Homo sapiens: one gene and its partner. The protein of the gene in region 1 interacts with the protein of each later gene in a pairwise test. Each region holds a gene or a part of one and is shown on either strand. Other genes may lie near its edges.

Region 1 (3,781 bases):
GGGAAAGCAGATTCTAGCCCCCTCAGCTGGGGAGGTTTCCCAGTGTCCTAAACCTTGGCCTCCTGCTTCTCTTTAGTGGCCCTGCTCCTGCTTAACACAGTAGTGCTTGTCACATGTTAGTCGCTGCCATGGATTTCTCAGGTTTTCAACATCATAACTACACTCCAATTCTCTGCACCCCTTTGGCAGGTGAGGCCAATAGAAAAATAACAGCACAGTTGAGTTTAAAAATGTAGTTTGTAGCAGGTGGACAGGTAAAGAGCTGGGTTAAATGACACCTCCACCTATCCTAGCTGTATGAGAATAAAAAAACTCCGAATCCTTCCTGAGAGGATTGAGCTGGCTAACCCTATGAAGTACATGGTGTCTAATGCCTGCCCCCAAGGTTTAATACAATATTTAAGACTTGCCTTTTGAAGTTCCCCACTGTCAACCTCCCCAGTTCTCCACCCATCTTCCCATGTGAGCTCTGCCTTAGCCACGCAATGGCCAGTCCTCCCTACAATGAGTCCATTTCCTTTATTCTCAATTTAAATTCAAAGTGGGGAAAAAGTGCACTTAAGAATGAATCATCCATTTTATTTTATTTTGTCATGTGCTCAACAGCATCTCTCTCTCTCTCCCCTCTCCCTGGCAGGTCACAGAGATAAATTAAAAATAAAATCTACAAGGAAAATAATTTATAAAAGCACTCCCAGGTTCACACCTTCTATCCCTACTGCTCAGTTAGGCACCCCCTAACTGGGAATCAGTGCTTCCCCCCACCCCCATTTCACTCCCACTTGTCTGGGGCAGACGGTACTCCAGAGCCGGGCAGGGGTGAGGGCAGCAGTGGCAAACAGTTAAAAATAAAGACATTGTAGTCCTGGAACCATCTGGCCACCTTGGCACTCCCATGTCTGCCTCCCCCAGGCAGCCCTCCAGGAGCCTGTGCGAAGCTGGGGCTGTGGAGAAGCTGCCTGTGGCTGAGAGCTTGTGTGTTTGGGGAGGTGCTCTCAGCCTGTCATATGCACTTCTCAATCTTCTAGAAAGAAACCCAAAAAAGAAAGCAGACGACGACCTCGGGACAGAGGAGAAAAATCCCAAGTGTTCACACAGTTACACGGAGTCTTTATGGCAAAGAGAACATTTAGCAGCTTTGAATATTGGGCATCTCCTTTTTACTCAACACAAGCATTCTAGACCCTATAAGTGAAACAGGGCACAAGCCCTAAAAAAATCAAAGCGCAAGAAATTCTAAGAGGACTAGTTCTTTTGTTGTTGCTGGGTTGTGTAATTTTTTGTGTTTTCCCAGTGATAAGCCCAGTTGTTGGTAGGCAGAGGCCCGAGGGAAGGGTGACTCCCCAGTGTTGTGCTGAATCCTGCCTGGAGGCTGCTACACTAGATTCTCCATCATTCCTCTGCCTCACAGCAGTCCCAGAAGAGGAAGGCTGCAGGCCCAGTTCCCGGAGCACTGCCATCACCCTACCCCAGCTTACAGAAGAGCTCAGGCAGTCTGTGAGGGGTGGGGAACACAAACACCGGACCAGGGGAGGACGGCATACACATGCAGGCTCTGATGGAGACAATGGGAGCCTCAGCTCAGGGGTGGCTGGAGCACGGAGGGAGATGGAGTGGCAAGGCAGTGAATGACATGCGTGATGTTGGGGCTGTTGCAACATGGGACCACGTGACCCTTTCCTGTTCACTCTACCCTTTGACTCTAAATCTCAAAGCCAGTGTTGGGGCCCAGTGGCTCCATTCGATTGAAACATGGCCAATGATATCCAAGAGCTCCCCTTCAGGGATGTCAAAATGCAAGGAGCAGAAAGAGTTAACACCGTCCCTCCCCACCCCCACCCTGTGTCTGTGTACCCCACCCCCCCCGGGGTGAAAATTGGGGTTTATCACACCAGTGATCTAGGCCCACCAGTCACTCCAACCTGCTGCCTGGAATCCTGGCCAGAGCCAACCTTAACCTTCCCTCTGATTTTCTTCCCGCTTTGATTTTTTTTTCGGGGGGGGGGGGGTTCCTTCCTTCCTTCCTTCTATCCCTCCTTCCTGAAATGAGACTTTCTGCCACCTTCCCTTCCTCTCACAGGTCCATTCCTTCCCCTCTGTCGGCCTTTGCTCCACATAGCTCCTCTACCTCCAGCAACTCCACCACCACCCCTGCCTCACAGGAAAGGGGTAGGGTGAGGACCCTGTCCGTCTAAATGGTCTGGCCACTTCCACTCCACCCGAGTGGAGCTGAGCCAGCCAGTGCCTGCCTCTTCCTGTACACTGACCCGCAGTCATCCCATCTGAGAAGATATATTGGATAAGAAGGCATTTAAGTCCCCGCTGTAGGTCCAGGTCCAGGTCCAGGTCCAGCCCTTCTCCAGTTTCGGTCTTGGTGGGCTTCAAACCCCCTTCTTCCCCAGGCTCACTTTCTCCGGTCCTTTGGCTTCCTCTCCTGCCGCCGGGCCTGCTGGTCGGCCATCGTGCGGGGGATGAGGAGGACACTGCCGTCCCCGGCGTACTGGAGCGCATACTGACTGGGCGAGTAGGGTCGTCCGTTCTCATCTCGCAGCCGCCCAAACACCTCCTGGTACAGGCTCTGGACCTTCTGCTTCATCTGTCGCAGGGAGCGCAGGAACTCCACTTTCTCCCGCAGCAGCCGGGCTTTGTCACGCTGCAGGTCCTCCACATCACGCTCCAGATTCAGGATGGTGTCCAGCTTGCGCTTGCGGCAGTTCTGCGCCGCCATCTTGTTCTTGCCCCGGCGCCGGATGTCTCGGATGAGGCTCAGCTGGGCTTCACTCAACTGGTATTTGGACAGCAGTTCATTGAACTCCTCCACAGGCAGGTTGATGATTTTGTCATTGGTGAAAGGGATCTTCATGGCTCGGGCTCGGTGCTCATCCCGGCTCATCTGCTTGTCCAGGAAGTCAGCCTGCTTCTCCTTGCTGCCTTTCTTGAGGGCACTGGGTGGTGGCAGGTCGGCTGAGTCCAGGGCACTGGGTGCCATGTTGTATGTGTGGTTGTGGCCCACGTGCTCCAGGTAGGGCAGGCATGAGAGCTGAGCTGGATCCTGGTAGCTCATGCGGCAGAACTTGGAATACTCAGGCTGGTAGCCCACAGCACCCTCGGCCTCTTCCAGATCCAGGGTCTCAGAGTCAGAGCTGTAGCCAACCGCACCTTCCTCAGAAAAGGAGGAAGAGGCAGAGGAAGAAGCAGAGGAAGAAGAGGAAGAGGAGGAGGAAGAAGAGGAAGAACTGCCTTCAGAGCTGCTTAGGGAAGAAGGGCTATGGCTCGAGTCTAAGGAAAGGCCTGAGTCAGAGTCAAATTCCTCCTCCAGCTGGGAGGCCTGCACAGGGTTAAAGCCTTCTTCAATGGCCAGGTCCATAAGGCTGATCTCATCCAACATAGCTTCATCTAACAGACCCCCCAAAGGGTCAGGCAGCTCTGGGCCTGCTGTGTCATTGGCTGTGCCATTGAGCTGGGGTGGAAAGAAGAGCCCTGTCAGGTTGGTGGAGCCGAAGGTGGAGTTGAGGCTGGTAGAATTGCTGGGGGCCAACGGGAGCAGCGTGGAGCTACTGGCCACAGGCAGGCTTTCCACCTCGGGGCTGAAGAGTAAGAAGTCCTGGCTGCAGCCCCCCAGGGACGCCTGATGCAGGCTGACATTCTGATTGATGGGAGTGTTGGGGGCAAGGCTGTAGTTGGTGCTCAGTGGGTCTCCAGGAGGGGCACTGTACAGGATTTCACTTGCTGATGTGTTCACTTCCATGGCCTGGGAGGGGAGAAGAGCACCACTGTTCAC
Region 2 (4,016 bases), on another chromosome or scaffold:
CATTCCTATGACAGGGCCATCTCCCTATCTCTCAGCATCTCCCAGGGACCAGAGACCCAGCCCCGGAGCTTCCTCCTCAGCCCTGCATCCTGCCTCCTGGCCTCTCTCAGCCGCCATTTTCAGGCAGAAGGCGTTCGGGCTGCAGGAGCCTACAAAATGGAGGGTGGGAACCTGGGCTTCCCTCTGCCTCCGTCTGTTGTCCCTGGGAGCGCCTGCCCGGTCCCAGTCGGAGCAGCAGCTGTGGCCACAGGTCTCTCCTAACACCCTAAGGAGCCTGGCATTTCTCCAAGCATGTCACCGCCAACATCTGGGGAGCCCCACACAGCTCTGAGCTCCCGTTGGCCCTGCTTTACAGCCGGGGAAACGAAGGCTGGGCATGGCCACTCAGCCTGAAGGAGGAGAGCTCAGGCTCCATAAAGTTCCATGACGGCCCAGCTGATGGTGGGTGAGGTGAAAAGTCCCTGGGGGAAGGGCGGACCTTTCCTGCAGGAGTCTTGAGTGGGGAGGGGTCCCCGGCCCAAACCCTACCCAATTCCAGGGCTGGGAAAAAGCAACGGATTTGGAGTCATGAGGTAAAACCAAGTATCTGTCATCTATTAGTGGTGCGATCTAGGAAAAGTCACTTTATCTCTCTGAGCCTGTCACTTACTCAGTAAAATGGAAGTATTAAATAGTAGCGCATACCTCCTTAGGGCTGTGACGAGGAGAAGGCAGGTTTACGTATTTGCAGAGTGCTGCACTGGAGGACGTGATCCTTGTACTGCCTGCCTAACACTTGTAAATGTACATTTTGTGGCGCACCTTCCGTGGGCCAGTCCCTGTGCTTGGCGCTCATTGAATCCTCATGGCACACCAGTCTGGGTCAGGAGGCAGAAAAGAGCCTGGACCTCAGCTCCTTTGGGAATTTCAGTCCTGCCTACCCAACATGACCCAACAGGACCAGCCGGACTGGCTGGTCAGCACCTCCCCTCAGCCGGGCCCTCGTAGGCTGTCCCACCTCCAGGTTTCTGCTCAAATGGGTCTTTCTTTCAATTTAATTAATTAATTAATTATTTTGAAACAGAGTCTCACTCTGTTGCATAGGCTGAAGTGCAGTGGTGCGATCTTGGGTCACTGTAACTTCCGCCTCCCGGTTTCAAGCGATTCTCTTCCCTCAGCCTTGCGGGTAGCTGGGATTACAGGTGCCCCCCATCCCCCGAACCACACCCGGCTAATTTTTGTATTTCTTTACTAGGGACGGGGTTTCGCCATATTGGCCAGGCTGGTCTCGGACTCCTGACCTCAAGTGATCCGCCCTACTTGACCTCCCAAAGTGTTGGGATTACAGGCGTGAGCCACTGCACCCGGCCTTCAAATGGGTCCTTCTTTCTGAAATACTTTTTTTTTTCTTTTTTGAGACAAGGTCTTGCTCCGTTGTCCAGGCTGGAGTGCAGTGGTGAGATCATGGCTCACTGCAGCCTCAACCTCCTGGGCTCAAGTCATTCTCTGCCTCAGCCTCCCGAGTAGCTGGGACTACAGGCATGAATCTCACATCCGGCTAACTTTTTAATTTTTTGTAAACGTGGGGGTCACACTATGTTGCCTATGCTGCTCTGGAACTCTTGGACTTCGGCCTCCCAACGTGCTGAATTACAGGTGTGAGTCACCAGAAAGGGCTGAAATCCTTTTTTCCCCCTTAACTTCTTATTTTCAAACTATGGACTCATAAGAAGTTGCCAAAATAGTGAAGAGAAATCCTGTGTACCCATCAGTCAGCTTCCCCCAGTGGTGACATATCATGACATGGATTTAAATTCAGCATTAGCCACCAACCTGGGACAAAATACATAACTTTCTGAGCCTCAGTTTCTCCACCCATAAAAAAGGGGTGATTGTCCTGGTGTTGTCAGGGTGGAACAGCATATGCATAGCTGGTGCTTGGAGAATATTAAGTCCCTGGTAATGGGTGGTGGTTGCAGCTGTCACTGGATTGTGCCTGTTGCCACACCTATCCCGGGGTGGTGCTGGTGTGTCTTACCACAACACTATAAACTGTTCAAGGGCAAACCTTCATGTCCTATGGCAGTGCCAGCACAGGGCCTGGTACTCAGCAGGTACTGAATGAATATGAAAATATGGAGCCTAGGCCAGGCACAGTGGCTCACACCTGTAATCCCAGCACTTTGGGAGGCTGAGGCGGGCGGGTGGATCACCTGAGGTCAGGAATTCAAGACCAGCCTTGCCAAAATGGTGAAACCCCGTCTCTACTAAAAATACAAAAAAATTAGCTGGGCATGGTGGTGGGTGCCTATGGTCCCCTTACTCGGGAGGCTGAGGCAGGAGAATTGCTTGAACCTGGGAGGCGGAGGTTGCAGTGAGCTGAGATCGCAGCATTGCACTCCAGCTTGGGTAACAGACTGAGACTCCGTCTCAAAAAGAAAAAAAAAAAAAAGAAAACAAAACAAAATATGGAGCCTGCTGCCCAGCAAGCTCTCCCCTGGCTCATGGTGCCTCTTTAATTTTGCCTTCCTGCTGGCCCCAAGGTGCAGGGCAACCCCCAGGCAAACCCCATGAGGGCGTGCCATGATGAGGGAGGCAGCCACACTTGACCCCATCTGTTGCTAAGAAGACTTCCAGGGTCCCTAGGACCTCAGAGGTCCCTCAGGGCTGTTCCTAGATTCAGTGGTGAGGCTGCAAGGCTAGGAGTTTGCATTTAGGGGAGAAACCCTATGCTAGAATAGAGCCCACAGGACAGCTGGCTGGAAACAAGCCAGGCAACTCCCACACAATGGAAAAAGCACCAGCCTGCTGGCTGGGAGACCCAAGCTCAGGTCCTGACAAGTCTCTTAGCCTCGCTAAACCTCAGTTTCCTCATCTATAAAATGAGGTCACCATGTGGGTGATGGAGCTCATTGTGCAAACAGCACTATGTTAACCACCGAGTCCTGTATTCACATAGGCAAGGGATTATCTTTGGTCTTGCTGTAGAGCATTTATAAGCTAACATTTCTGAGCACTGCATTTTGTTCGGCTATTTTCAGATGCATCATCTACATTAACTTGTACACTTTGGTGAGTTGGGGATTTTTATCTCTAGCATGCAGGCAAAGAAACCACCCTGGGGCCATGCAGAGATGCAATTCAGAACCCGCGTCTGCCTGACTCCGGGGTCCATGATTCTATACGACAGGATGCCGGCTGGGGTTGATACAGTGCCCTTCCTAGGGCTAAGTGTCTAGTGGCTGGGTCTCTGCTGCGTACAGCCAGATGCCCTGCTCCATAACCTGTAAAGCCTCAAGGAACATACATAAAGTACAAGCATGTTTAGGCTGGGTCCTTAGTGTTCAATTTACCCAGTTTTCCAGAAAGGAAACTAGGGCCAGAGAAAGGAAGGAACTTGACCAAGATTCCCCAGCAAGTTAGGACCAGAGCTAGTTCTCAAAGTCCACACCCACCTCACCCCTCCTCAAGGTTCCTTCTCCTCCCCAGGCTGCAGGGGCCTAGATTCCCAGAGCGGAATCAAGGGAGGTGAACTCGGGTGCCCCCCAACCTCAGGGCTCACTGGGAAAATCCAGGGACTTCTCAGGGTACTGGGGAGCCCCTGAAATGGGGGTCTCATGTGTAGGACGTAACCCCAGGCTGCAGAGCAGTCAGCGTCCCCAGGCTCAGTCTTGTCAGGGGACACCATGCCCACCCCCTTTGTCCTTTCTCTGGATCAGTGTTTTCAAAGTCTAGGGCACATACACAAAACTATGCAAAATTGATTTAGGTGGTCATTGACTTGGCATTATATACCACTATATTACATGATGAGGAAGTTATGCATACTCTTTATTTCCCTTTCAGCCTTTCTAATTACAGACTTGGAGGAGGAAATCTCCCATGGGGTTAGTCTTTAAAGTCTCTCTGACATCTACAGCCCTCCCTTTTGAGGAAAGGGAAAGCAGCAAATGCATCTGGCTAGAATTTAGTAACATTGTTTTATTTCCATTATGTTTATTTTCACCATTATAATCATGATGGTGATTTATAATGAA

What was found.
Region 2: the proteins of NFE2L1 (region 1) and CD6 interact in a two-hybrid assay, tested with the Homo sapiens proteins (one large-scale study listed by BioGRID and IntAct).

The regions. Positions count from the first base shown.
Region 1 is NC_000017.11:48,058,265-48,062,045, reverse strand, and holds the end of NFE2L1 (endoplasmic reticulum membrane sensor NFE2L1), read right to left. Parts: intron 3,752-3,781; coding exon 2,405-3,751; 3' UTR 501-2,404; downstream 1-500.
Region 2 is NC_000011.10:60,977,880-60,981,895, reverse strand, and holds part of CD6 (T-cell differentiation antigen CD6 isoform 1 precursor), read right to left. Parts: intron 1-4,016.